Linked DNA regions of Homo sapiens: regions 2, 3, 4, 5, 6 and 7 are each linked to region 1. Evidence: fine-mapped expression QTL. A gene starts in region 1. Each other region holds a variant in brackets. All regions are shown on one strand. Distances are from middle to middle.

What was found.
Region 2: its variant is fine-mapped to the expression of ARHGEF18 in whole blood (INTERVAL, PIP above 0.99).
Region 3: its variant is fine-mapped to the expression of ARHGEF18 in whole blood (INTERVAL, PIP above 0.99).
Region 4: its variant is fine-mapped to the expression of ARHGEF18 in whole blood (TOPMed, PIP above 0.99).
Region 5: its variant is fine-mapped to the expression of ARHGEF18 in whole blood (TOPMed, PIP above 0.99).
Region 6: its variant is fine-mapped to the expression of ARHGEF18 in whole blood (TOPMed, PIP above 0.99).
Region 7: its variant is fine-mapped to the expression of ARHGEF18 in whole blood (INTERVAL, PIP above 0.99).

Annotation. Positions count from the first base shown.
Region 1 is chr19:7,347,265-7,351,328 of GRCh38, reverse strand. It overlaps ARHGEF18 (Rho/Rac guanine nucleotide exchange factor 18), which reads right to left and starts at 2,392. Exons shown (of 29, transcript NM_001367823.1): 1 at 2,088-2,392.
Region 2 is chr19:7,307,883-7,311,946 of GRCh38, reverse strand. No RefSeq gene overlaps it. Among named protein-coding and RNA genes, the nearest start is that of INSR, 16 kb to the right of the region's middle. The variant TTTA/A (reference allele first, on the strand shown) is at 2,544.
Region 3 is chr19:7,415,024-7,419,087 of GRCh38, reverse strand. All of the region lies in intron 10 of ARHGEF18 (Rho/Rac guanine nucleotide exchange factor 18), which reads right to left. Among named protein-coding and RNA genes, the nearest start is that of ARHGEF18-AS1, 22 kb to the right of the region's middle. The variant CAAA/A (reference allele first, on the strand shown) is at 2,179.
Region 4 is chr19:7,468,683-7,472,746 of GRCh38, reverse strand. ARHGEF18 (Rho/Rac guanine nucleotide exchange factor 18) reads right to left here. Exons shown (of 29, transcript NM_001367823.1): 27 at 3,616-3,922; 28 at 2,718-2,843; 29 at 269-2,621. The coding sequence ends at 2,449. Among named protein-coding and RNA genes, the nearest start is that of PEX11G, 18 kb to the left of the region's middle. The variant C/G (reference allele first, on the strand shown) is at 2,424.
Region 5 is chr19:7,375,971-7,380,034 of GRCh38, reverse strand. It overlaps ARHGEF18 (Rho/Rac guanine nucleotide exchange factor 18), which reads right to left. Exons shown (of 29, transcript NM_001367823.1): 5 at 3,278-3,392; 6 at 1,584-1,641; 7 at 869-913. Among named protein-coding and RNA genes, the nearest start is that of ARHGEF18-AS1, 17 kb to the left of the region's middle. The variant C/T (reference allele first, on the strand shown) is at 1,656.
Region 6 is chr19:7,541,689-7,545,752 of GRCh38, reverse strand. PNPLA6 (patatin like domain 6, lysophospholipase) reads right to left here. Exons shown (of 32, transcript NM_001166114.2): 10 at 3,686-3,769; 11 at 3,083-3,192; 12 at 2,825-2,992; 13 at 2,669-2,746. Among named protein-coding and RNA genes, the nearest start is that of PNPLA6, 8.0 kb to the right of the region's middle. The variant C/T (reference allele first, on the strand shown) is at 2,221.
Region 7 is chr19:7,461,894-7,465,957 of GRCh38, reverse strand. ARHGEF18 (Rho/Rac guanine nucleotide exchange factor 18) reads right to left here. Exons shown (of 29, transcript NM_001367823.1): 21 at 3,624-3,806; 22 at 2,003-2,140; 23 at 1,268-1,398. Among named protein-coding and RNA genes, the nearest start is that of PEX11G, 25 kb to the left of the region's middle. The variant A/G (reference allele first, on the strand shown) is at 2,283.

The sequences.
Region 1 (4,064 bases):
AAACAAACAAACAAACAAACAAAAGAAGTCCACTCTAGCAGACTTGCTTACAGATTGAGATCCACCATGGGTATGACCCAGAACATTTCAGAAGATGGTGGGACTGCTCAGGAAGGAAGGCCTGGGGACAAGGTCAGTATGAAGGCATAGGTGAGGCTGACAATGTTTTCTGATCTATTACGTGCCAGACACTGCACTAAGATCTCACAGACCAAACTTCATAAAGGCTGAGCGAGGTGGTTCATGCCTGTAATCCCAGCACTTTGGGAGGCCAAGGCAGGCAGATCACCTGAGGTCAGGAGTTCAAGACCAGCCTAACCAATATGGTGAAACCCTGTCTCTACTAAAAATACAAAAATTAGCTGGGCATGGAGGCGTGTGCCTGTAATCCCAGCTACTTGGGAGGCTGAGGCAGGAGAATTGCTTAAACCCGAGAGGCGGAGGTTGCAGTGAGCTGAGATTGCACCAATGTACTCCAGCCTGGGCGATAGAGCAAGATTCTATCTCCAACACACACACACACACACACACACACACACACACACACACACACACACACACCCACCCCAAAAAACTCAACAGCCTTTTAACAGATGAGCAAACGAAAGCTCAGAGCAGTTAAGTCATTTGCCCAAGGCCACATAGAGGCCAGGGAACTGGGATTTGAACGCCCAGCTGTCCAACACAGTCACCATGTCATCTACAACAGTATCGAGCATCAACATATGCCCATCCCTTTGTCATGGGCTAGGGGATGCCCAGGGAGGCATGGGAGACAGCCCAGACCAGAAGCACCGACGTGTTTGCAGTTGCCATCTACTGGTTCTTCAAGGCATAATGAAAAGGCTGCCTCTACCAAGCAGCCCTCCCAGAGTGACTCCCAGTCACAGCAAGGGAGTTGAAATGTGGCTGATTATGAGGGCAACCCTTTCCTGACCTCCTTTGGTTGTCATGTTCTTTTCTCAGAACTGCAGGTGACCTGGCCTTGGAGCATCAGCCCCCAGCGTCACTTCCTAGCTCCATCCTCTCTGGCCCCAGCTGTCCACTCTAGCTCAATTCACTCCCTCCTGGTTCTGGGGCCACCTTCCTAGACCTCAGGGTGCCTGAAGCCTGCCCTGCAGCATTGGGGGCTGGCAGGAAACAACAGACTGGGTGTGCCCAGCAGAAACCGCAGCCTTCCTCCCCCACCCCTCCCAGTCCCAGGCAGGCGGTGGTGCAGGAGGTCCCCCTAAGAAGGGGCCACGAGAGGAGACAGGGGATGTCTCCCAAGGGGGAGAACCCTCACCTGGAGGAAGGCTGCCTGGGTGGAGGGATGTGCTCTCTGGATGATTTCAGATCAGGACAAGACCCTTCTCAGGGCTGGTTGTCAGCCATCAGCCTTAAGTGTGAGTTTGTTTTGACAGTGGATTCAGAATCTGCAACAGGGAGGTTCTTGGGGGGCCCGGAATCTGCAGTTTAAGATGCAAAGGGCACCTGAGCCTTTGCCCCAGCTCCCCCATTCATTCTCTGTCTCCTGTCTCCACGCAGGAGGGCCTTGGCTACAAGGAGCTCTATCGTCCTTTCTTTGCTTTTCTTTTTCTTTTCTTTGTTTTGAGACTGAGAGGCTCACTTCAACCTCTACCTCCCGGGTTCAAGCCATTCTCCTGCCTCAGCCTCCCGAGTAGCTGAGATTACAGCTGCCCGCCACCACGCCTGGCTAATTTTTGTATTTTTAGTAGAGACGGGGTTTCACCATGTTGGCCGGGCTGGTCTCCAACTCTTGACCTCAAGTGATCCGCCCTCCTCAGCCTCCCAAAGTGCTAGGATTACAGGTGTGAGCCACCGCGCCCGGCCTCCACCCTCCTTTCTTACCTAGCAGCCCCTCAAGGATCCCCGTCCCCTGGGGTGACCTCTTATGACCACAGATCTCTGCACAATGAACGCAAGGGTCAAACAGCTTCCCCCACCCACTCAGGAAGCAAGTTGACTGCAAGGGGGAGAGAAACAGTGATGTATGTCTGCTCGCTGTCCCCCTAGACTTCCCAGACCCCACTGCCACTCTGTCCCGATGGGTCCATCTCTCTCCACTTCCCAGGATAAGTACTTACCAGATAGAGCTCAGTTCTTCAACCTGCAGGCACCTAGCCTGGCTAACAGCTCCTGCAGCTCCCATGACCTACGGCCAGCGTTTCGAGCTGGCCCAAGGGAACCGCTGGCTGGGTAGAGCCTGGGATAACCACAGAATGACCCAATAGCACCTCGACTTCCTCTTTCTCAACTGCCTGCCTGCATGCTTGCCACTCTGCTCCCAGCTGCAGGCCAATCTAGGGGCCTAAAAAGAGCCCAGAGGATGGGGGTTCTGGAGGCAGAGAGCCCTGCTCCCACCCCTCAGCCCTGCGCATGCAGGTGTCTTGAGGAGGAGGGGTGGGGAGCTGGAGGGAGGCCCAGCGTCCTCAACCCCCACCCCAGCAGCTTCCTGTGGAACCAACTGCTGAAGAGGAACAGGGTGTGGGGGCCTCACCCAGGCACATGGGTGTATAGACAGCAACATATAGGGACGTGCAGGTCATGTGTATCCGTAGAGACTCAGGCACCCAGACACACACCAGCATGGTGGGTACACACAGAGAGACAGAAACACACGTGGCTACATTGTTACATGGGTACCTGGAAGCTGGCGGAACAACATGGTGTGCTGGTAACGTTTAACAACCACCTCTCCGATTTGTAGCCATTGCCAATTCTCCTGGTGTAAATACCCCCAGCATGGCCGATTTCACCTACCAGTGTGATGTCACCGAGTGTGGAGTTGATAGGAAATGCTCAGATTTGGCTTTTTTTAGAAAACAACAACAACAACAACAAAAAACTGTTTATTTTATTTTTAGAGATAGGGTCTCATTCTGTCATCCAGTCTGGAGTGCAGTGGAAAAATCATAGCTCACTGCAGCCTCAATCTCTTGGGCTCAAGTGATCCTTCTGCTTCAGCCTCCTGAGTAGTTGGGATTACAGGCACATGCCACCATGCCTGGCTAAGTTTTTTGTTTACAGATAATTTATGTATAATTTATATATACTTTATATATAATTATATATGGATTATATATAGACTTATATATAATTTATATATAATTTTTTATATATAATTTTTCTTTTGAGACAGGCTCTCACTCTGTCATCCAGGCTGGAGTGCAGTGGGGGTGATTTTGGTTCATTGCAACCTCCATCCCCTGGGCTCAAGTGATCCTCCCACCTCCGCCTCCTGAGTAGCTGGGACCACAGGCACACATCACCACGCCTGGCTATTTTTTTTTGGTTTGTATTTTTAGTACAGACAGGGTCTCACCATATTGCCCAGGCTGGTCTCGAACTCCTGGGCTCAAGCAATCCTCCCACCTTGGCCTCCCAAAGTGCTGGGATTAGAGGCACGAGACATGGCGCCCAGCCTAAGTTAATTTTTTTTTTTTGTAGAGACAGGGATTTTATTATGTTTCCCAGGCTGGTCTCAAACTCCTGGGCTCAAGCAGTCCACCCGCCTTGGCCTCCCAAAGTGCTGGGATTACAGGCATGAGCCATGATGCTCCACTAAACTTGGCTCTTGGGCTGGCTTCAGCCTGTCACTGGAGTGAGTACTCTACAAAAAATTTAAAACTTCGCCACATTTGGTGGTGCCTGCCTGCAGTCCCAGCCGCTCCGGAGGCTGAGGCGGGGAGGCTCACTTGAGCCCAGGTGTTCAAAGCTGCAGTGACCTATAATTGTGCCACCGTACTCCAGCCTGGGTGACAGAGTGAAATCCCATTTTTTTTAAAGAAAGTTAAAATGGTAAATTTTACGTTATGCCTATTTTACCACATTTAAATTAATCACTTTAACATTATTTTTGCTGCATTTTCCATAATCTATGCTTTTTTTCCTTTTCCTTTTTTTTTTTTTTTTTTTTTTTTTTTTTTTTTTGAGATGGAGTCTTGCTCTGTTGCCCGGGCTGGAGTGCAGTGGTGCAATCTCAGCTCACTGCAACCTCTGCCTCCTGGGTTCAAGTGATTCTCCTGCCTCAGCCTCCCAGGTAGCTGGGATTATAGGTGACC
Region 2 (4,064 bases), 39 kb after region 1:
GAGCCTGGGAGGTGGAGGTTGCAGTGAGCTGAGATCACGCCATTGCACTCCAGCCTGGGCGACAGAATGAGACACAGTCTCAAAAAAAATAAAAGAAAAAAAAAGAAATTAAACATAGAATTACCATATGACCTAGAAATTCTGCTTCTGGGTATACACGCACGAGATTTGAAAGCAGGGACTCAAAGAGACACTTGTACACCCATGTCCACAGCAGTGTGATTCATAACAGCCAAAGACAGAAGGCACCCAAGTGCCCAGCAAGAGACGAATGGATAAACAATGTGGTCCCTCCGTAGGGTGGGATAGGATTCAGCCTTAAAAAGGAAGGACATTCGGCCAGGCGCGGTGGCTCATGCCTGTAATCCCAGCACTTGGAAGGCCGAGGCAGGTGGATCACTTGAGGTCAGGAGTTCGAGACCAGCCTGGCCAATGTGGTGAAACCCTGTCTCTACTCAAAATACAAAAATTAGCTGGGCATGGTGGCGGGCACTTGTAATCCCAGCTACTTGGGAGGCTGAGGCAGAAGAATCACTTGAATTCGGGAGGCGGAGGTTGCAGTGAGCCGAGACCACGTCACTGTACTCCAGCCTGGGCAACAAAAGCAAAACTCCATCTCAAAAATAAAATAAATAAATAAATAGGAAGGAAACTCTGGCCAGTTGCGGTGGCTCACACCTGTAATGCCAGCACTCGGGGAGTCCGAGGCGGGCAGATCACTTGAAGTCAGGAGTTCGAGACCAGCCTGGCCAACATGATGAAACCCCGTCTCTACTAAAAATACAAAACTTAGCCAGGCGTGGTGGCACATGCCTGTAATCCAAGCTAGTTGGGAGGCTGAGGCAGGAGAATCACTTGAACTCGAGAGGCGGAGGTTGCAGTGAACCGAGATCATACCCCTGCACTCCAGCCTGGGCAATAAGAGTGAAACTCCATCTCAAAAAAAAAAAAAAAAATCTGGCATAGGGAAATTCACAGAGACAGAAAGTAAATTACTAGTTGTCACGGAGGGGGTGGAATGGGGAACAGCTACTTAATATATGTGAGGTTTCCCTTTGAAGGTGATGAAAATGTTCAGGAACTTGATAGAGGTGGTGGTTGTACAACATTGTAAATGTACAAAATACCACTAAGTTATTCACTTTAAGATCCACGATCTTATTTTATGGGAATTTCACATCAATTAAAAAATACACACATACAGCTGGGTGCGGTGCCTCATGGCTTTGAGAGGCCAAGGTGGATGGATCATCTGAGGTCAGGAGTTCGAGACTAGCCTGACCAACATGGTGAAATCCCGTCTCCCAAAAATAAAAGTAGCCAGGTGTTGTGGTGTGCGCCTGTAATCCCAGCTACTCAGGAGGCTGAGTCAGGAGAATCGCTTGAACCCAGGAGGCGGAGGTTGCAGTGAGCCGAGGTCACGCCATTGCACTCCAGCCTGGGTGACTAAAGTGAAAGTCTGTCTCAAACAAAAAAAGAAAATACACACACACACACACACACACATACACACAGACACGCACACATTTCTTGCTTCTTCTCACTTCTGGTGGCTATTGGCATTCTTTTGTTTGTGGCTAAATCACTCCAGTCTCTGCAACTATCTTTACATGACCTTATTCTCTTCTGTCAAAACTCTCTCTGACTCCTTATTTTATTTATTTATTAATTTTTTTAGAGACAGGGTCTCACTCTGTCACCCAGGCTGGAGTGCAGTGGTATGATCATTGCTCACTGCAGCCTCGACCTCCTGGGCTCAAGTCATCCTCTTACCTCAGCCTTCCAAAATGCTGGGACTATAGGGATATACCATCATGACTGGCCAATTTGAAATCTTTAAGAGATGGGGTCTTGCTATGTTGCCCAAGTGGGTCTTGAACTCCTGGCCTCTAGAGATACTCTCACCTTGGCTTTCCAAAGTGGTGGATTACAGGTGTGAGTCACTGCACCTGGATACGTGCATTATTATTATTATTATTATTATCATTATTATTATTGAGACAGAGTCTCGCTCTGTCACCCAGGCTGGAGTGCAATGGCGTGAGCTCAGCTCACTGCAACCTCTGCCTCCCAGGTTCAAGTGATTCTCCTGCCTCAGCCTCTGGACTAGCTGGGATTACAGGCGTGCACCACCATGCCTGGCTAACTGCTGTATTTTTAGTAGAGACGGGGTTTCACCACATTGGCCAGGCTGGTCTTGAACACCTGACCTCAGGTGATCCACCTGCCTCAGCCTCTCAAAGTGTCGGGATTATAGGCGTGAGCCACTGAGCCTGGCTGGTGCATTATTTATTTATTTTCCTAGGAAGAAGGTATATTTATTTATTTCTTAAATTTTTATTTTTATTTCAGTAGTTTTGAGGGTGCAGGTGGTTTTTGGTTACATGGATAAGCTTTTTAGTGGCAATTTCTGAGCTTTTGGTGCACCTGTCACCCAAGCAGTGTACACTGTACCTAATATGTAGTCTTCTATCCTTCTCCCCCCAATTTTCCCTGCCCAAGTCCCCAAAGTCCATTATATCACTTTTTTTTTTTTTTTTTTT[TTTA/A]AAGACAGAGTTTTGCTCTTCTTGCCCAGGCTGGAGTGCAGTGGTGCGGTCTCGGCTCACTGCAACCTCCGCCCTCTGGTTTCAAGCGATTCTCCTGCTTCAGCCTCTCTGGTGGCTGGGATTACAGGTGTGCAGCACCACGCCTGGCTAATTTTTGTATTTTTAGTAGAGACGGGGTTTCACCATGTTGGCCAGGCTGGTCTCGAACTCATGATCTCGTGATCCGCCCACCTCGGCCTCCCAAAGTGTTGGGATTATAGGCATGAGCCACCGCGCCTGGCCATTATATCACTCTTATGCCTTTGCATCCTCCTAACTTAGCTCCCACTTATCAATGAGAACATAGGATATTCGCCTTTCCATTCCTGAGTTACTTCACTTAGAATAATGCTGGCCAGGTGCATCCTTAATAGCTGGAAACACCTTCATATTGCTTGCGGCTGTCCCTTTAAAAGCTGGTTGCATTCCTGTCTGGAGAGGTTCATTGGCTGGATGAAATTTGTTATGCTCACTTTTCACCACAAATCCGTGACGCTTAATTCAGTCCTGTGAAATGTCTGGTGCAGAGTTACAATCTCTTACCTCGTCGTGGTCTCCTTTGCTCGGGATGTTTACTGCCTCTTCGATTTTTTTTTTTTTTTTGAGATGGAGTCTCGCTCTGTCACCCAGGCTGGAGTGCAGTGGCACGATCTCGGTTCACTGCAGCCTCTGCCTCCCGGGTTCAAGCGATTCTCCTGCCTCAGCCTCCCAAGGCACATGCCACCACGCCTGGCTACTTTTTTTGTATTTTCAGTAGAGACGGGGTTTCACTGTGTTAGCCAGGATGGTCTTGATCTCCTGACCTCCTGATCCGCCTGCCTTGGCCTCCCAAAGTGCTGGGATTACAGGCCTGAGCCAGCACATCCGGCCTGCCTCTTGGATTCTTGTTGAGCTACTTTGTAACTAGTGATGGATGGTTTCAACTCTGAAGGTTTTTACATCAGATAGGATGGGGGCAGCTTTTACGGAATTATAACCCCTTGAATGAGAGCTACTCAATAGGAAATTCCCAACCACCAACTCCACAACAGAATAGCAGGTAGCACCAACGTGTTCTGCTGTAGAGACTGGTCTCATTGATTGTGTCCTTAAACTTCAGAGTGTGGGGAAGAGCAAACACCATCAAAAGATCGTCAGTCTAGGAGGCCGGGGAAAGTGGCTCACACCTGTAACCCCAGCACTTTAGGAGGCTGAGGTGGATGGATTTATTGAGCCCAGGAGTTCAAGACCAGCCTGGGCAACATAACATGGCAAAACCTTGTCTCTACAAGAAATAAAATAATTAGCCGGGTGTGGTGACGAGCACCTGCAATCCCAGCTACTCGGAAGGCTGAGGTGGGAGGATTGCTTGAACCCAAGCGGTCAAGGCTGCTGTGAGCTATGATTGCACCACTGCACTCCAGGCTGGGCAACAGAACCAGACCCTGTCTCAAACAAACTAACAAAAAAATCGCCAGTTGAAACTTGTAAAATGCAACT
Region 3 (4,064 bases), 68 kb before region 1:
GGTACAGAGGCCGAGTGTGGGTACATCTGGGGTACAGAGGCCGAGTGTGGGTACATCTGGGGTACAGAGGCCGAGTGCGGGTGCACCTGGGGTGAGGGGCTGCTGGGGGGCTGGAGAGCAGACACACCTGCAATGCAGAAATGAAGGGAGAGGCCCTTCCATTCCCTGGTGCTTACTGAACAGGCGCCAGGTGGACTAGCAGATGTCTGAAAGGAAAGACTCTCCAGGAAACAAGTATTTGTGGAAACTCAAAAGAGCCGTCAATGAGTGCCACCTTCACCTCCTCTCCTCCCTCTCTCCCCCTTGAATCCACACCGACAACTCCATCAGCCACATGGGCCGGGGCAGAGAGGGCAGGTGTGCTAGGAACAGACATCGCAGCCACGCTGCCCGGGCTCAAACCCCCACCTCCGAGATCCAGAGCCAGGGACCTAACTGCACCCTGCCTCCATTTCCCCCATCTGTAGGATGGGGATAATCGTAGTGCCTGCTGGCTGGGCACAGTGGCTCACACCTGTAATCCCAGCACTTTGGGAGGCTGAGGTGGCAAGAAGGTGACAGAGTGGCCATCTGTCACTGACAGAGTGGGAGGAATGCTTGAGCCCAGGAGTTTGAGACCAGTCTGGGTAACATTGCAAAACCCCATTTCTACCAAAAGTAAAAAATTAGTCAAGCATGGTGCACGCCTGTGCTCCCAGTTACTTGGGGGGCTGAGGCAGGAGGATCGCTTGCGCCCAGGAGTTCTAGGCTGCAGTGAGCTGTGATTGTGCGACTGCACTCCAGCTGGGGTGACAGTGAGATCCCGCCTTAAAACAAAACAAAACAAAACAAAAAAACCCCACAAACACAAAAAACCAGTAATGCCCTCTCTGGGGGTTGGCTGTGATAGAGAACATTCTGGAATGCTGTCTGACACAAAGCAAATACTTTCCTTGACTATTTGTACTACCATTCACTTCCTCCGTAGCTGCTGGAATGATTCAACTAACAACCAAGTCAGGCATGTCCCTCCTCTGCTCAAAGCCCTGCCATGGCCCCCACCTTCCCCAGGAACCCGTCTTCACTGTGACCTGCAAGAATGGTCGGCAAACTATGGCCCCAGGGCCAAATCCAGCACCTCCTTTGGTAGAGCAAAAATATGCACCAGAGACCTTATGCTGCCCACAAAGCCCAAGGTATGTACCATCTGGTCTCTTACAGAGAGTCCAGGACCTCTGGCCCCACCCAGGCTATCTCCTCACCAGCTACCACCAGCCTTCACTCTCCCACTCTCCTGGGCCACCTGGCTCCACCCACCCCGGCCTCCTCCAAACATGTCACCATCCCACTGGGCCCCCGTGGCTGCTGCTCCTTCTGCCTGTCCCCATCTTCTTTTTCATTTTATTTTTATTGAGACCGAGTCTCGCTCTGTCATGCAGGCTGGAGTACAATGGTGCGATCTCAGCTCACTATAACTTCTGCCTCCTGGTTTCAGGTGATTGTCATGCCTCAGTCTCCCGAGTAGCTGGGATTACAGGCGTGCGCCACTCGTCTGGCTGATTTTTGTATTTTTAGTAGAGATGGGGTTTTGCCATGTTGGCCAGGCTGCTCTCCAACTCCTCACTTCAAGTGATCTGCCCGCCTTGGTCTCCCAAAGTGCTAGGATTACAGGTGTGAGCCACTGTGCTGGGCCAACTTTTATTTTTAAATGTATAATTTTCAAATAGAGACAGGGTCTTGCTATGCTGCCCAGGCTGGTCTTGAACTCCTGGCCTCAAGCAGTCCTCCTCCCTCTGCCTCCCAAAGTGCTAGAATTACAGGTGGTAAGCCATCTTGTCTGACCTGCCCACCTTCTCAGTGAAGCCCCAGAGGCCACCTTGTTTAAAATATCATCCAGGCCAGGTGTAGTGGTTCACACCTGTAATCCCAGCACTTTGGGTGGTGGCTGAGGCGGGTGGATCACTTGAGGTCAGGAGTTCGAGACCAGCCTGACCAACATAGTGAAACCCTGTCTCTACCACAAATACAAAAATTACGCAGGTGTGGTGGTGCGTGCCTGTAATCCCAGCTACTTGGGAGGCTGAGGCAGGAGAATCGCTTGAACCTGGGAGGCAAAGGCTGCAGTGAGCCGAGATGGTGCCACTGCACTCCAGAATGGGCAACAGTGTGAGACTCCATCTCAAAAAACAACAACAACAA[CAAA/A]AACAGCCGGGCATGGTGGCTCACGCCTGTAATCCCAACACTTTGGGAGGCTGAGGCGAGCGGATCATGAGGTCAGGAGATCGAGACCATCCTGGCTAACACAGTGAAACCCCGTTTCCACTTAAAAATACAAAAAATTAGCTGGGCGTGGTGGCGGGCACCTGTAGTCCCAGCTACTCGGGAGGCTGAGGCAGGAGAATGGTGTGAACCCGGGAGGCAGAGTTTGCAGTGAGCCAAGATCGTGCCACTGCACTCCAGGCTTGGCAGCAGAGCAAGACTCTGTCTCAAAAAAAAAAAAAAACCCAAATAAAATATCATCCACCCCAAAACACACACACACACACACACACACACACACACACACACACACACACACGAATTTTCTCCGTGAGGCACATCACAGCCTCCTTGCACTCAGGGGCACTTGCTGGCACTGCAGCACTACGTTTGAAGGTCATTTTATTTTCTAAAAAATTTATTATTATATTGTTATTTTAGAGATGAGGTCTCTGCTGCCCAGGCTGGACTGCAGTGGCGTGATCGTAGCTCACTGCAGCCTCGAACTCCTGGGCTCAAGGAATCAAGGGATCCTCCTGCCTCAGCCTCCCAAGTAGCTGAGACCACAGGTGTGTGACACCATGCCTGGCTAATTAAAAAAAATTTTTTTTTTAGAGATAGGGTCTTGCTATGTTGCCCAGGCTGGCTGGTCTCAAACTCCTGGGCTCAACTAATCCTCCTGCCTAGGCCTCCCAGTGTGCTGAGATTATAGGCATGAGCCTCCTCGCCCAGCTAGGGGTCATTTTCAACATTAACATCACCAACAAGAAGCACACAAATGCGAAAACCGTGGTACTCCATAGACCTTCAACAGGGCATGTGTTTACAGTGTGAGAGGCTGAACGAGAAGGTGGAGTGTCGCCTCGCTCAGCCTCAGCTGGGAACCTGTGTGGGAACTCCAAGTTTTCTCCACTCTGCACCAATATGAATGGATTCATGTTGCGGTTACAGAGAAATTTTAGCAAGCGGGTGAAAATTAAACAAAGAATTACCATCCGATCCAGCAATTCTACTCCTGGGTATATCTTCAAAAGGGTAAACACTGACTCTGCAAATCCCAAGGCTCAACTGTAGTTTTGTTTATTTAGAAGGGAAACTCCAGGAGCTGCGGGTCTCTGTGGTCATGGCTGGCACGAGGCCTGTCATGTGGTGGGTGGGTGCTTAACAAATACGCGCTTCAGGGAGGGAGGGAGAGGACGTCTGGGAGGGACCTGGTCTGGACCGGTCAGAGAAAGGAAAGGGCAGGGTGGAGGGAATGTCTTATTCCAGGAGGTTCTGCCATGGGCCTTGGGGGCCCTTGGAGAGTCACTTTGTCATTGAACCTGAAGCCACGGAAAGGTTTATGTGGAGGATTGGATGAGCTCTGCTTCTCGAAACGATGGCTGCAGCGTGGGGAGCAGGGCACACTGGAAGGGGTTGCTGGTGGACGCAGGGGGACCGGGACCTCGAGGGCAGGGTGGAGAGTGGCAGAGAGGGGCGGTGCAGGGGCCATGAAGTGGGGGGCAGAGTGGCGGGCTCGGCAGCAGGCAGCCGCTGGCACGGGGTGTTGCGCTCAGGAGGGCGCTCTAAGCAAGGGGTGGACATTTGGGCCTAAGGTGCTACCTGAAGCCCGGGAGAACCCAGGAGTGCCCAGGAGCAGGGTTAGGGAGGTGGTTTAATGGAGCTGCCTGGAGATTCAATGGGATAAGGGATGGAACTAAGGTCCTTGGGTCCAGCTTTGTTGAAAGCGGTCTTGGGAGCAGAATAGCTGAATGGCATGCGTGGTTTTTATTTTGGGGGAGGGGAGAACACAGTTGTATCATAATCACTGGCTCAAACTAGTATTA
Region 4 (4,064 bases), 120 kb before region 1:
GCCTGGGCGACAGAGCAAGACTCTGTCTCAAAAAAACAAACAAACCAAAAAAACAGAAACAAAAACAAAAACAAAACCCCCAACAACTCCTGGGGACTGGACCTGAAGGGGTCTTCAGAGCGTTAAGCAGGACACGGAGGGCAGGTGAGCGAGCTGAGGGGCAGGAGCCATGGGGAGCCCCCAACAGAACCTGCTACTCCTGCAGCAACGTTTGGGCAGAAGAAAATCCTCAAATAAAACCTCCAAGAACGTGCACGCCAGTCACCGCTCATCTCGGACACGTTTATTGCTAGAATCAGGTCTTAAGTTCTAAAGCGGGTCAGAAATATCCCGCAGTGAGGAAATGTTGTAATCATTGTAAAAATAATTAGCAGGTGACTAAGATCATGACCACAACTGACAAAGACGTGTGCAGATCCCACGAAAATAGGAACATTTGCTCGACTGTCAACTTTACAAATAAAATCGGGCTCCAACCCAGGAGTGGCCGAGGGGCACTGGCGAGGGAAGGGCTGTCGGCGCTGCCGCCCGATGCCTAGCACGACTGAGACCCCTCTGCCACATGGCGGGGACGCGGGGTTCCCACCGCGTGGCCGAGCAGAAATTCCTTGAACTTCTCCCCCATCCAAGGAATTGTGGCATCTCGGAGGGCTGGACCGGCACACGCCGGCTCAGGAGGGTGCCAGGGTCTGGGAATGTTCTCTTCACAACAGAACAGGAATGTACAGTCAGCTTCTGTAAAGTGCTCCGATACTCAGTACAAAAATACAAAACACTGATGATAAACATGGCACACATGGGATCTGACGGGGGGCGGACAGCGTCGCTGATGGCCAGGGACCGGGCTGGGCAGAGTTGAGGTCGTCGGAGGGGCCAGGAGCCTGGGGACACCTGGCCACTGTGTTCTCAGGACCTTGTCACCAATGGGCTGTATGGCTGTGGGGCTCTGGTTCCCGGTTGGCACCAGCTCCTGCCCCGCCCCCTCCTGAGCCCACAGCACCCAGTGGGCGCCTCTGCCCAGGGGAGCACTTCCTGATGGAGTTTCCCCTCCCTTGTGCCCATCTGTCCCCGAGTGGCGGGAATGTCCCTGTTCACTGTATTCAGCGTCACAGGAGTGCCTCTGCCAGCACAGTGGGAGAAGGGCTGAATCCCCCCGGGATCTGCAGTTCCCAGGACCCTGGGTTCGGGAGAAGGACTTGGCCCTGGCAGGGGCTCACATGTACCCCACTGGGAACAAGGACGATCAGCCAGGACCCAGTCCTACCACCAATGCTTGGGGTGCAGAACAAGGCTTGACATGGGCCCTTTCTCCACCGGAGCTGGATCGTGGATGGATCTCACCACCCTGGGATGTCCCAGCACCTTTGATGCTGCCCAACACCTCCTTCCTCCACCCCTCCAGGGAACGGACCGTAAGCTGCAACAGCTCACTACAAGCGAGGGGCCCGCACAGCGGCCACTTGTCCACTTGCTGCAACGTCTCTAGGTGCATCCTCTGCATGCCCTGGGACATGGCGCTCTCGACAGTCTGTGATGTGCCAGCCCCCACCTGGAAGGTGGGACGCCAGCCCTGGGAGCTCATTTCCCGGGGGCTGAGGACCCTGTGCCCAGGGTGTGTACCCGCCCTGGCTGAAGCTAGAGGCCCGCTCCCCCAGACAGGCTGAGCGTGTGAACAGCAACGGTTGCCCTTGGGAAGCAGAGTTTGGGAAACAGCTGGTTTCAAAACCAATGCCAAGTAAAAAGGGGCAAAGGTCAGCCCCTTTCACGATGGGCTTCCAAACCCACAGAACCTGACTGGAGGGCCACTGATGTTCCCTCAGTGGGCCCTGCCCCGTGGCCCTCTCTGCCCATGCCCCCGTGCCTGGCTCATTCCCTGACCCTGAGGTTCATGGTGAACCTGCGTGGGGCTCTGTTTGGGAAGTGGATTCTGCCTGATTCTGGGGACAGATGCTGCCGACGCCACCTGGCCCCTCCTGGTGCCCTAACCCTTGGCTCCACTGTCGCGCGGCGGCTGTGGAGCGTGGCCCCGGCCGGCAGCTCCTTCTCAAAGCAAGGTCTGTCCTGTCCTCAGCTCCGTGCAGAGCCGGCACCGTTCCTCACTGCCTCGGAAAAACAGCTCGGAGTTGATCTCCCCGCCACCCGGATGGGGTGCTATGATTTCAGACAGCTCCCTGGTTTAGTTCTGGCTCAACTTTCCATTAAAAACTTTCCTTTTTGAAAAAAAAAAAAAGAGATTCAGAAAGTGACCCCGGCACCACCGCTAACCCTACAGAAACAGCTGCAAGGCCCAGAGCACCGACAGGCTGGCCCCTGCCAGGCGGTCATCAGTGGTTTGCTAGGGAAGAGGAGGGGACAGCTGGGTGGGCATGGTGACCCCATGGGGGTCCCCAGAGAGCAGGAAGGGTGGGCAGGGCAGGGAGGGG[C/G]CTTGCACCTTGAGTCACGGCCCTTTTAGAAGAAGATGACGTCTTCTTTGCTGGCGTCCTCCTTGGCGCTGAGTGGTGTGGCCGGCAGTGGCGAGGGAGCTGGGGGCCCGGGCAGGAGGGCTGTGCCCCCGGCCTTGAGAGAGAAGCCCTCGGAGGGGCTGTCAGCTGGCGGTGGGCTCGGGGCGGGGAAGCCAGGGTCTGGAACAGAGAGAGGGTTCAGACTGAGCAGTCGCCGGGTGGTGCCGCAGCCCCGCTGCCCTGGGACTGGGCTCATGTCAGGGGGTGGGGGCTCACCTGGTGGGGGCGCAGGACTGTGTCTGCCGGGCAGGATAGGGCTCAGCGAGCGGCGGTTCCGTGAGGTGCTCTCATCTTTCCCCATGAGCTTGTTGAGCAGCAGCTGCTGCTTCAGGTCGAAGGACGCTGGAAGAGAGAAGGTATTTGGGCCAGCTCCAGGCTGGCCAGCTGTCCCCACCCGCCAGGGCAGCCTCCGAGAGCAGAGGGGCCTGGCCACCCCCACCTGACACTTCCCACGGGCGGCCTGGATCCCGTGACCTGAGCTGCTCAGATGCTAAGCCCCAGATTCAGGGAGAACGGCCCCAACCTCCCTGCGGAAGGACCTGCAGAGTCACCCGGCATCTGGAGAGGAGGCTGAGCCTCCTGTGGAAATAGCACAGGCCCTAGTGACCACGGGACACACCCTTAATCTTCAGAGAACATCCCAGAACATCCCTGGTTGTCCCCCAGGGAGGTGTCCCCCAGAGGAGCTCCTGGACATCCTCCGTGGAAACACTGGGGCTGCTCTGGGCTCCGTGTCCCACTCTGTGGAACGGCTCTGTGGAACTGGGACAATGAGCAGAGGCGCCTGCACCTGTCCCTGTCCCGGCTGTGCTGATCCCACGTGGCCAGGGATCTCTGCCTTCTTGCCCGTGTCCCTTTCTAAGGCTCCTGGTCCCCATCCCACTGTTTTGAGGGTTGAGGTGGAGAAGATGCAGGGTGGATCATCTCAGTTTTGGGCCTGGAGACCAAACACGGCCCTGTGTGGGGTGGCCTCAGCCACGATGCCAGCTGTGCCTTCTGGTTTTCCTCTCCAGAGGATGGCACAGGTGTCCCGAATTTCCTGGCTCCCAGCGAGCCGCTAGAGCCTGACCAGTTGCACCTTCCAGGCCCAGGCGAAGGGGTGGGGCCGGCTCACCTGAGCTCTCCCAGCGCTGAGAGCCCCTGCTCTTGCCGCCCTTGTCCTTGCCACCCTTGGTGGAGGCCGCCAGCTTGGTGGGGATCTGCTGCTGCACGGCCGCCTGCCTCTGGAACTGGTTGGTGGCGCTGAGCAGCTGGATGGGCACATCGCTCTTGGCCAGCCGGTTCTCGGTGGGGGCGCTGTCCCGGCGAGCCACCTCGGGGCGCTCTGCGTACTCTGGCCCCACGCCGGATGGCAGCATGCTCACACGAGGGCCCTCCAGCCCTTCCCCGTTGAAGCTGGGAGGGTGGCTTGGGGGCTGGGCCTGAGGGGACAACAGCAGATACATCCAATGTGAGGTTCCTGCTGTGCGGCCTCTGGAGAGCCCCCGAGGGTCGTGCACAGGAGACCCTCGACCTCTCCTGTTCTGGACAGAGCCAGGTGCAGCCTGAAGGAGCTGCTGGTCA
Region 5 (4,064 bases), 29 kb before region 1:
CCACCACGCCCAGCTAATCAAAAAAAAAAAATTATACAGACAGAGTCTCACTCTGTTGCCCAGGCTGGTCTCAAACTCCTGGGCTCAAACAATCCTCCCACCTCAGCCTCCCAAATTGCTGGGATCATAGGCATGAGCCACCTCGCCCAGCAAATTTTTAAATGTTTTTTGTAGAGACAGGGTCTCACTATCTTTCCCAAGCTGGTCTCAAACTCGTGGCCTCCAAATGATCCTCTCACCTTGGCCTCCCAAAGTGTTGGGATTACAGTGGTATGAGCCACCACATCCAGCTACAGGAAGATTTTGTAACAGATGGCAGTGTCTTAGGCAGGAGGCACCTTCACCTGTTTGCTCCAAGGAACCCCTATGCCAGTGGCAGCCTGCTCCTCTCCAACTCTTGTCTTCTATCCTCCTCCCTCCTCTTCTGCCCCATTTTTCTTCCCTTGAACCCAGCCTTGTCTTTTTTCTATTTTTTTGAGACAGAGTTTCACTGTGTTGCCCAGGCTGGAGTACAATGGTGCAGTCTCAGCTCACTGCAACCTCCAACTCCTGGGTTCAATCAATTCTCCTGCCTCAGCCTCCTGAGTAGCTGGGATTACAGGTGCGTGCCACCACGCCTGGCTAATTTTTGTATTTTGAGTAGAGACGAGGTTTCGCCATGTTGGCCAGGCTGGTCTCGAACTCCTGACCTCAGGTGATCTGCCTGCCTCAGCCTCCCAAAGTGCTGGGATTACAGGCGTGAGCCACTGTACCCAGCCCTCACCCAGTCTTCTCTACCCCTGTCTCCTACACCTGTGCACACCCCTGCATGCTTCCTGCTTTTGTCTCCCACTTTGCTCCCCTCAAGCCTGTCCCGATTCCCACTTACCCATGGTACTGTCGAAGTTCTTGAAGCACCTGCTGGACAATCAGCCTGTGGGGGTGGAGGTGGGATTAGAACAGCCCATGGTAGCTCCAGGTTACAGACACTCTCCCCTAGATAAGCTGGGGTTGCCCAAGCAGGCCTCAGGTCCTGATGCAGACCCTACTCAAAGCCACAGTCAGCCGGGCACAGTGGCTCACGCCTGTAATCCCAGTACTTTGGGAGGCCAAGGTGGGCGGATCACCTGAGGTCAGGGGTTCGAGACCAGCCTGGCCAACATGGTGAAACCCCGTCTGTACTAGAAATACAAAAATTAGCCGGGCGTGGTGGCGGGCGCCTGTAGTCCCAGTTACTCTGGAGGCTGAGGCAGGAGAATCACTTGAACCCAGGGGGCAGAGGCTGCAGTGAGCTGAGATCACGCCACTGTACTCCAGCCTGGGTGACAGAGTGAGACCCTATCTCAAAAAAAAAAAAAAAAAAAAAAAAAAGCCACAATTGTCTCCCAAGGCTACATTGAGAACCTTTCTGAGGGGCCTGGGTCCCTCCCACCGGGAGAAGGATGGTGGCAGAAAGATGAGGTTATGGGGGGACTAGTGGGATGGTGTCTGGCCCTGGTCACTTATGGCCAGCAACACTGCACCCTGGCAGCCCTCCTCCCGCAGCCCTGACTTTGTGGCCTGTTCCCTGGGGGTCCCTCCCCCACCACGAGGCAGAAACTCACACGTGATCTGGTTCCACATGGTCTTTTTCCATGCACTCCAGCACTGGAGGTTCCAGGCCTGGAAGAAGCCCC[C/T]CATCCCAGGAAGCACAGTTGTCAGGAGCTCTGGGACAGGACCAGCCCAGCAGAGCCCTCCCGGATGCCACCCTGGGCCCCTGCAGAACTGGAGGCCATGCAGACAGGGCCTGTACTCTCAGGCAACAGAGACGAGAAGAGGACAGAGAGCCAGGGACAAACGCAGGTGTCCCCAGTGTCTCGTGAGTGCTTACAACCTACTAAGTGCTTTACGTGTGTGAGATCAGCAGACTCTCCAAGTGGCCTGAAGGAGATACGCTTATTGTCCCCCCTCCCCTTTTTTTCCTTAGACACAGTCTCGCTCTGTCACCCTGGCTGGAGTGCAATGGCTCAATCTCAGCTCACTGCAACCTCCGCCTCCTGGGTTCAAGCAAGTCTCCTGTCTCAGCCTCCCGAGTAGCTGGGATTACAGGCGCACACCACCATGCCCGACTAATTCTTGCGTTTTTATATTTTTAGTAGAGACGGGGTTTCACCATGTTGGCCAGGGTGGTCTCGAACTCTGGACCTCAGGTGATCCACCTGCCTCGGCCTCCCAAAGTGCTAGGATTACAGGCGTGAGCCACCGCACCAGGCCTTTTTTTTTTTTTTTTTGAGACGGTTTCACTCTGTCACCCAGAGCGGAGCGCAGTCCTGCCATCAGAACTCACTGCAGCCTTGACCTCCTGGGTTTAAGTGATCCTCCCATCTCAGCCTCCAAAGTAGCTGGGACTACAGGTGCACACCGTCATGCCTGGCTAATTGTTTTTTGTATTTTTAGTAGAGACAAGGTTTCGCCATGTTGCCCAGGCTGGCCTCAAACTCCTGGGCTCAAGTTATTCACCTGCCTCAGCCTCCCAAGGTGCTGGGATTCCAGGTGTGAGCTGCTGCACCTGTTCTAATAGAGGAAGCCACAGAGGCTCAGAGACTTGTTATGTGTTTAGACTCCAGGTTTGTCTGATGCCAGAGAGGTGCAAGATCTCAGGATAAAAATTCAGAGATAAAGAAAGAGATAAAGAAATAGTCAGAATGCTGGGCGCGGTGGTTCATGCCTGTAATCTCAGAACTTTGGGAGGTTGAGGCGGGCCGATCACTAGAGGCCAGGACTTTGAGACCAGCCTGGCCAACATGGCGAAACCCTGTGTCTACTAAAAATACAAAAATTAGCCGGGCATGGTAGCGGGTGCTTGTAGTCCCAGCTACTTGGGAGGCTGAGGCCGGAGAAGGGCATGAACCCGGGAGGCGGAGGTTGCAGTGAACTGAGATTGCACCACTGCACTGCAGCCTGGGCGACAGAGCAAGACTCTATCTCAAAAAAAAAAAAGAGTCATAGAGAGAAGAGAGAATCTTGGGGACAAGCTCATTGCAATGGGGCAATCTCACACTGGCTCAAGAGCTGCAGGGAGAGGAGGAGGGACAGATGCTGGAGGTCCCTTCCCCTCTCTGGCTTCCCCCAGCGTTCTGCTCAGTCCCTGCCCAGGGGACCCTAAGCCAGCTCCCTTCCCTTCCCTGGGGCCCATCTGGAGCCCCACCAAGGGGACCCTCCAGGATGAAGGATGAAACCCCAACAGGGTTTCACCATGTTGGCCAGGCTCCTCTTTCCCTGACTTGGTTTGAATGAAGGAAACTCCCAGGCTGGCTACCTTGAACAGGTGGAGTGGGCACTTCCAAACCCGGAGAGATTTCCGGAGAGCGGATCTCATAGAAGGACACAGGAACGGACCTTGACCTCCCTCTTTTCTTGGGGCTGTCACATTCCTGCAGGGGATTAAACATCTCACTAAGCTGGGAAGGCAGCCTGGACTGCAGGCAGGTTCCCTGGATTGAGGGGCCCAACCCACAGCCAGGGCCACCTCCACAGAAATGGGGTGACACACTCATCCAAGCCTCAGCCTCCAGCCACTCCCCCCAGCCATAAGACATGGGTTCAGCCACCCCCTCCCCAGCCACAGGGCTGTAGTCCTGGCGGAGGAGCCTCCAGCTCTGAGCTGGAGCCCCAGGTATCAGAGCCACAGCTTCCAACAATGGCCAGGAATTTCCCCCAGGGTCCTTTGTGATCACAGCCAAAGATGTCTCAGCCACCAGCCACAGCTCCAAGCATGCATTCCTCAGGTGTGAGCTGGGATCTCAGGTCAGACACAAATTCTCCTTAGCTGTAGCTGCATACCCCAACCACAGACACAGCTGCCTTCCGGCTGCAGGGCTACACTCCAGGCAAAGATCCTCCAAGCCTGGCTGAAACTGCAAGATAAGACATCCCCCATCCCCTTGTCTCCAGCCCTTGGGTTGGAGTCATGGCCATGCATGGCCTGCCCCAGATGCTTACCCAGGGAAATCCCTTCAGGCCTAGGCTGGAATCCTAGGACCCAGAGACAACTGAGGCACGGGCCACACCACAGATAAGCAGCCTCCACCCTGCCATGGTGGGTA
Region 6 (4,064 bases), 190 kb before region 1:
TTTAGTAGAAATGGGGTTTCACCATGTTGGCCAGGATGGTCTCGAACTCCTGACCTCAAGTGATCCTCTCACCTCGGCCTCCCAAGGTGCTGGGATTACAGGCGTGAGCCACCGTGCCCAGCCATTTTCCTGCCTCTTGTCCAGCCAGCAGCACACAGTTCGAGATGGGGCAAATGCTGGGTAAACACGTTTCTTTCTTCTTTGGGTAGCCTGACCAGCTAGAAACCTTCCTGTTCCATCCCTTTATAAATAAGGAACTGAAACCGCCCAGAAATGGAGAGATTCCTTCTTTATCCACCACACCAACCTGTCTGGTACCCAGTGAAGCTCCACCTGCCAAAACACTGCAGGGACCCCTGGGTGAGGCACAGTCCCAGGAGATATAAACACATGCTGGAACCTTCTAAGACAGAATTTCCAGACTGTGGCCAGGTGCCGAGGATCACGCCTGTAATCCCAGCACTTTGGGAGGCTGAGGCGAGTGGATCACTTGAGGCCAGGAGTTTGAGACCAGCCTGGCCGACATGGTGAAACCCCATCTCTAGTGCAACTACAAAAATTAGCCAGGCGTGGTGGCACGTGACTGTAGTCCCAGCTTCGAGGGAGGCTGAGGTGGGAGAATCACTTGAATCCGGGAGGCAGAGGTTGCAGTGAGCCAAGATCGCACCGCTGCGCTCCAGCCTGGGCGACAGAGCAAGACTCCGTCTCCGAAAAAAAAAAAAAGTTTCAAGGAGAAGCACAGGAGAGCACAGGGTCCCTAACAAAAGTCCTGCCAACGCAGAGAAGCTCTGAGGGGCTGCAGACCAGCGTGGTACACTGACAGGCCAGGGCTGGGTTGTGGCCAGCAGTCTCCCAGATAAGCAGGGCCCAGGGGCCCCCAAAGAAGCCACAGGGTAACCTTACTTCCTCAGCTATTCTAAGAACAGCTGGCAAAAGCCTTGACTTCCTCTCCAGAAAAGAGCCCATCCCTGCCATGGGTGGTTCAAGGGGACAGCAGAGTCACTGGGTCAAGTGACACAGCAACACTCCAGCCGGCTAACAGTGGGACCACAGCTCCCACCCCACCCCAACCCTGCCCCAGGCTTCTCTCCCCCAAGCCTGGGGCAGAGCTGGGGTCCCAGTGCCTATGACAGCTCACTGTCACCTCAAGCCCCCGCTCCCTATAAGCTGCTGCTAAACACCCTCCCTGACCACTTGTCACTCTTGCAAACCCCACACTGTGGATAATGGACTGTATGGTTCCGGCCTGCTGCTCTGTACATTTGAGCATCCCTGATCTCTACCCATCAGGTGTCAGGAACAGCACCCTGTGAAATCCTAACAATCAAAAATGTCTCAGTAGGCTGGGCACAGTGGTTCATGCCTGTAATCCCAGCTCTTTGGGAGGCCGAGGCAGGCGGATCACCTGAGGTCAGGAGTTTGAGACAAGGCTGGCCAACATGGCAAAACCCCATCTCTACTAAAAATATAAAAAGTAGCCAGGCGTGGTGGCACAACCCTGTAATCCCAGCTACTCGGGAGGCTGAGGCAGGAGAATTGCTTGAACCCAGGAGGCGGAGGTTGCAGTGAGCTGAGATTGTGCCACTGCACTCCAGCCTGGGTGACAACAGCAAGACTCTGTCTCAAAACAAAAAAAAAAAGGCCGGGCGCAGTGGCTCACGCCTGTAATCCCAGCACTTTGGAAGGCCTAGGCGGGCGGATCACGAGGTCAGGAGATCGAGACCACCCTGGCTAACACAGTGAAACCCCCTCTCTAGTAAAAATACAAAAAATTAGCCGGGCATGGTGGCAGGCGCCTGTAGTCCCAGCTACTCGGGAGGCTGAGGCAGGAGAATGGCGTGAACCCGGGAGGCGGAGCTTGCAGTGAGCCACCGTCACGCCACTGCAGCACTCCAGCCTGGGTGACAGAGCGAGACTCCGTCTCAAAAAAAAAAAAAAAGAAAAAAAAGAAGTCTTACTGGGGTTCTGCGAACTAGGCATCTCTTCTTTATTACCTCATTCCACTGATGAGGAAGCAGAGAACTTTCTAGATCATCTGCCACACTCTGGGGACAGAGTGTGGGTTTCAACTTTCCTCTTCTTCTTCCTCCTCCTCCTCCTACCCTGAGGCTTCCTGACTTTCAGCTGGTAGTCGGGTCACTAACCCTTGATGGGCCTCAGTTTCCCCATATGGACAGTGGACAGAATGGTAGGATACATTTTCCTACACATCCTGGGTGC[C/T]GCCACAAGGCCCTGAAACCCCGACCCAGGGCTGGTTCATGGCCTTCCGAGGCCAGATGGCGATTTGTAGCCATTTATTGAGCCCCTATCCTGGCAGCGGTCAGCATGAGAAGCAGACATGTTAGTGAATACTGCAGGATCAGAAGTTCAGAAAACAGAATTACAGGAAGAGCCAGGGCAGGCAGGAGAGATCTAGGAGTTGGAGTCCTAGGGCAAAAGGTTCAGGGGTCACAGGTGAAGGGTTGACAGGTCCAGAGGACATAGGGTGGGGTTAGGGGGTGGGGGTCACAGGACCCAAGGGTTAGAGGTTGGAAATGATAGGATGAGAGAGGTCTGCTTCTATGGGAGAAGGTGCTGGTCTTACAGTCAAAGGGCAGGGATCAGAGGTCACAGAAGTCATAGGGAATGATCTCAGGTGGCATGGTTACAGGTCAGGGGTCAGCCTCACCTGGTCTCCCTGGCGGGCAATGATGGTGCCAGCTTTGGCGTGGTGCAGCAAGACTCTGCTGTTCAGGAGGGAGGGGTCCTGGGGAGGTAGGGGGGTTGAGATGGGCGCAGCCAGGCCTCCCTTGCGCCCTGTGCCCAGCTCCCCTCGGCTGCCCACCTCAATCCGCATCAGCTTGGCCAGCTCCTGCTTTGCTGCCTCGAAGATGCTGCTGGTCTGGCGGCCCTGGTAGGGCCCGAAAGGGCAGCCACCAGTGGCCGACTCATCCTCACAGTAGCTGTATTCACAGGCGCCTGCCGGCTGCTCACGAGGCTCCTGAGTGGGGGTCTGAGTGGGGCAGGCTTGTGACCTCCTGATGCTCCCTCCCAGCCACCTTCCCCTGCGGGCTCCACCACCGGGCAGGGTCCCAAGCCTTACCCGAGCGGGGGCTGCCAGGGACCCCCCGGAGGCCTCTTCCTGCAGGGACACGGAGATCCGGCCACGCTCATAGGCCATGTCGAAGTCGGAGCGGGGGCCACCCTGCAAGCCTGCAGGCAGGCAGGGGGGCAACAAAAACCATAAAGATGAGAGTAAGATTTTTAAAAAATGAGCCAGGTGTAGTGGTGCAGGCCTGTAGTTCCAGCTATTTGGGAGGCTGGGGCTGGAGGATCACTTGAGCATAGGAGTTCGAGGCTGCAGTGAGCTATGACAGCACCACTGCACTCTAGCCTGGGAGACAGGTCTCAAAAGAAAAGAAAAAGATGAGAGTAACCACAGTTGCAGTCTGAGACCAATGGATACCAATGTGCCATGGGCCACTGCTGTAGCAGACATGACTAATCAACGCCTGCACTCTCCCTCTGAATCCCTCTTAACAGGTGGGAGAAGCACTATCTCAATGAATATCTACAAAACAGTGCCTGGGGAAGTACTGGCAGTGTTCCCATTTCGCAGATTAAAACAATCAAGACAGGCAGGCGGTGGACCTGGATTCAAACCTGGAAGCTCCATGGCCCTCCCCGCAGACCCAGTGCTCCAAACCTGAGATGTCCCCTGGCATGGAGACGCAGCGGCTCAGCAGAGGGGCCGAGGGGGTTTCCAGGGATGTGGGCTTCACAGGGTCCCCTGGGGGAGACACATGTTCAGGCTCCTGCCCCTCAGAGCCACTAGGAGGATTAGCAGGTTGGGAGATAAGGAGATGCTGGCGACTGATTAACTAGTTAAAGCAATTCCAATGGGCCCTTGGGGACGAGGCCACAGCTTCCTCGGTACCAGATAGGAGTCAGACCTGGGTACCCCGCTATGGAGTCCCTGTGGGGCTGGACAAGGTCAGGTTGACTCTATGCAGAACTGAAAAAGGGGCTGGCGGCTGAGACGGGGCTTCCTGGGAGATTGGGCTCGGCTGGCCTCGGGTCCCTGG
Region 7 (4,064 bases), 110 kb before region 1:
TATCCACCACCACGTCCAGCTAATTTTTATATTTTTAGTAGAGACAGGGTTTCACCATGTTGGCCAGGCTGGTCTCAAACCCTGGACTCAAGTGATCACCCGAGTCGGCCTCCTGAAGTGCTGGGATTACAGGCATGAGCCACCGCACCCAGCCAAAGGATCAGCTATTTTAAAAATATTTTGTCGACATGTGGTCTTGCTATGTTGCCCAGGCTGGTCTCAAACTCATGGCCTCAAGTGATCCTCCCAAGGCCAGGTATGGCGGCCTTGCCTATAATCCCAACACTTTGGGAGGCCCAGGCAGGAGGATTGCTTGAGCCCAGGAGTTGGAAACCAGCCTGGGCAACATAGTGAGACCCTGTATCTACCAAACATTTAAAAAATTAGTCAGGTGTGGGGGCGCGCACCTGTAGTTTCAGCTACTTGGGAGGCTGAGGTGGGAGGATTGCTTGAGCCTAGGAGTTAGAGGCTGTGTGAGCTGTGATCACGCCACTGCCCTCAAGCCTGGGTGACAGAGTGAGACCTTGTCTCCAAAAAAAAAAAAAAAAAGTGATCCTCCCACCTCGGTCTCCCAAAACACTGGGATTATGGGTGTGAGGCACTGCACCCGGCCCCTGCTTATTATTGAAAATACATCCCTTAGTGTGGATAACAGGAAGGACCCAGGACCGGGTCATGACTGGGAACACAGGCCCTGCTGGTCAGCTGACTTGTACAAATCTGGGTGTTTGGAAAACGAGGGGCTGGGGCCTCCTGGGAGGTAGAGTGGGCTTGGCTATGAGGCCTGCGTGCCAGCTCTGGCCACAGGGGCAAGTCCAAGCCTCAGAACTGATCAGAGGCAACTGGCCTTGGCCTCTGACCCCCTGACCTGGGCAGGGCCGAGTAGGCACCTGGCCTTCTGATTCAAAGGCAAAGGAATAGCCGGGGACATCTGGCATCTGGTAGGCACCACCACACCTGCCCCGGCTGAAAGCTGGTGGTCCCTGTAGGGGGTTCCTCGCCTGTTGATGAAGCCATGGTGAGTGCCCTGAGCCTGTCCCCTCCCCAGCCTTCCTCTTGGGGACCTCTTTGCTTTTCCCAGGAGGCTGCAGGAAGAAATCACCTGCCAGTGCATTAATCTGGGCTGAGATACTGTTATTCACCACAAAACAAACAATGCTTGTCGATGCTAATAAGACTAAAACTGGACAACCCCAGCAGAAGCTGCTCACACACATGAATCCTTATGACGACTCAGACTGTACCGAGCAAATGGATATCCACGTACCACCTGCGGCGATTCCTCAGAGCTCCCAGGAATGTCACTGTCACTGAGCTTCAAGTCCGGGCTGTTTGGGGGGCCTCGCCAGTCTCGGGGCCTGGGGTCAGTGCTGCTGACTTTCTTCTTGAAACTGCCATCTGAGAACCCCAAGCCAGGGGCATGAGGATGCTGCCATCCCGTGGGGAGGGGGAAGCTTCCCAGTCCACCCCCAGCCCCTGCCCAGGTAGGAAACCCAGGCTAGGCCCGAATGGTGGCGTCTGCAGCACAGACGCCTGCTGGAGAGGGGCAGGCTGGTCTGGGTGCTGCTGTCACAACACAACCAACGATGTCTGGAGGGTTTCAGAAGGTTCCAGAAAATCGGCTGGGTGCGGTGGCTCACACCTGCAATCTCAGCACTTTGGGAGGCTGAGGCGGGCGGATCACCTGAAGTCAGGAGTTCGAGACCAGCCTGGCCAACATGGTGAAACCCCATTTCTACTAAAAATACAAAAAGTAGCCGGGCATGGTGGCGTGTGCTTATAGTCCCAGCTACTTGGTAGGCTGAGGCGGGAGAATCACTTGAACCCAGGAGGCAGAGGTTGCAGAGAGCTGAGATTGCGCCACTGCACTCCAGCCTGGGTGACAGAGCAAGACTCTGTCTCAACAACAACAAAAAAGAAAGTTCTAGGAAACCCCATACAAGTTAATGTGCATCCTGAGGGGCGGCCCTGGAGGCAGGAGGGGAGACGGCCCCGCTCTTACTCTTGGTGGGGCTGTTTGTGCAGTCGTAGCCCGCGAAGGTCTCAGCCCTCCTGGGCGGGCCTGTGGAGCTGCCTCCGTCTTCCGCCTGGCCGTTGGCGCTGCCCAGCTGCCTGCAGATCAGGCTCTGGATGCCCTCGACTGTGGAAGGAAGGGGACAGGAGGCACGGGTCGCCCTGCGGAAGTGTGCTGGGGGAATACGGAGCGCTGGGGCAGCGAGACCCGGGTGGACGGAGGGACTCACTGGGGTGGTGATCGCCTGCCCCCTTCTGTGTGCCGTGGG[A/G]TTTCAGCCCCACTGTCCCTGCGCACACCCTTACTTCAGGTATGGCCACCAGGACAGGCCAATCTGCGTCTAAGTGAGAGGACAGGGCTGTGGGGCAGCCATGGGGAGGGCGGGTACAGGCTCCTGCAGCTCCTTCCACCAGGCCGCCCTGGGCCAGGGGCTGGCGAATGCTGGATGTGGCCCTGCCCAGGGCCAGCAGGAAACACTTGGTGTGTTATATGACAATGACCATACACTGATTGTGTGACAATGGCCATATGGGAGAGTGACTTTGTGGGGAAGGGCTGTCTACAGAAAGCCCTCTAGGACCAACAGGCTGTGGCCAGGCACAGAGGTGGGGACAAGAACATTCCAGGCCAAGGTGCGGGATATGAGAGTGTCCCCAGGGGGCCAAGAACAATGGCCACTGGAGCCGGGTGGAAGGATGTCAGTGGGCCTGGAGGGAGAAAGACTGACCCCCGTCTCTGCCGTCTTATTCTGCGGAAAGGCTCTGGAAGGCAGGGGCTGAGTCGGCTTCCCTCACTGTTGAAAGAGCAGATTGAGGCAGGGCGCGGTGGCTCACGCCTATAATCCCAGCACCTTGGGAGGCAGAGGAGGGTGGATCATCTGAGGTCAGGAGTTCGAGACCAGCCTGGCCAACATGGTGAAACCCCATCTCTACGAAAAATACAAAAATTAGCTGGGCGTGGTGGTGGGTGCCTGTAATCCCAGCTACCCAGGAGGCTGAGGCAGAATTACTTAAACCCAGGAGGTGGAGGTTGCAGTGAGCCGAGATCACGCCACTGCACTCCAGCCTGGGTGACAAAGCGAGACTCCATCTCAAAAAAAAAAAAAAAAAAGAAAAGAAAAAAAGAAAGAGCAGACTGGGCGCTGACTGCCTGCTCAAGCGGCCAGCCCAGGGGCCTGGCGGCTGTGTTAGAGCTGTGCGTGGGGACCCACTGAGGGAGTGTGCGTGTGTTTTTCTGGGGATATCACCAGGACCCACCTCCCAGGAAGAAGAGGAACCTCTGGTAGGTAGGGAACCAGTCTTAGTCAACTTCAGATCCTCCCCACGGCCCGGCTTAGAGCCTCTGCATGCAGGGAGCATCAGAGCGGTTGTTGAACGGGGAGAAAGTGCTTTATGTCTGCAAGGAGCGGCTTGGCCCAGATTATGTCTAAGGCCCTTCTGGCTCTCACAGGCACCGGGGGGCGGTCAGTGCTGCTCCTGGGCCCCCCCCACATAGAAGCCTGTCCTGGACAGGGTGCCGTGTCGGCCACAATGAGCCGTGAGCCTGGCCTGGGGTTCCCTGAGGAGCCCACCCCGGCAAGACTGCACCCTTGAGGTGTGGGCAGCCAACTTACTCTCGCTCATGGCCGACTTGAGAATTAGCTCCCCCTGCAGGGTCTCGGATGGGTCCCCTCCACGGAATAGGCCTCGGGGCTGGGGCAGGTCTTCGAGGCCGCCCATCTCGGCCATCTCCAGGTAGATCTGCTGTTTCTCTAGGAGGCTCTGTGCGATCAGCTGGTCTTTCATGCTCAACCGCTCTGCAGAGTGATGGTGGAGGTGGCAGTCAGCCGGGTCGGCCTTCCCTGGAATCATCTGAGCCCCGGGGACTGGCCTAAGGATGAGGAACCCCGCTGGCCCTGCCCTGAGGTAGGCTGCCCCCTTGTGTCCTGCATTCCTGGGAGGTAGGGGAGGGCATGGCCTTGTCCTCTGATTATTTTCCCCCTTGTTATAAAAATCAGGTTAGCTGTGGTGGCTCAGGCCTGCGATCCCAGTACTTAGGGAAGCCAAGGTAGGAG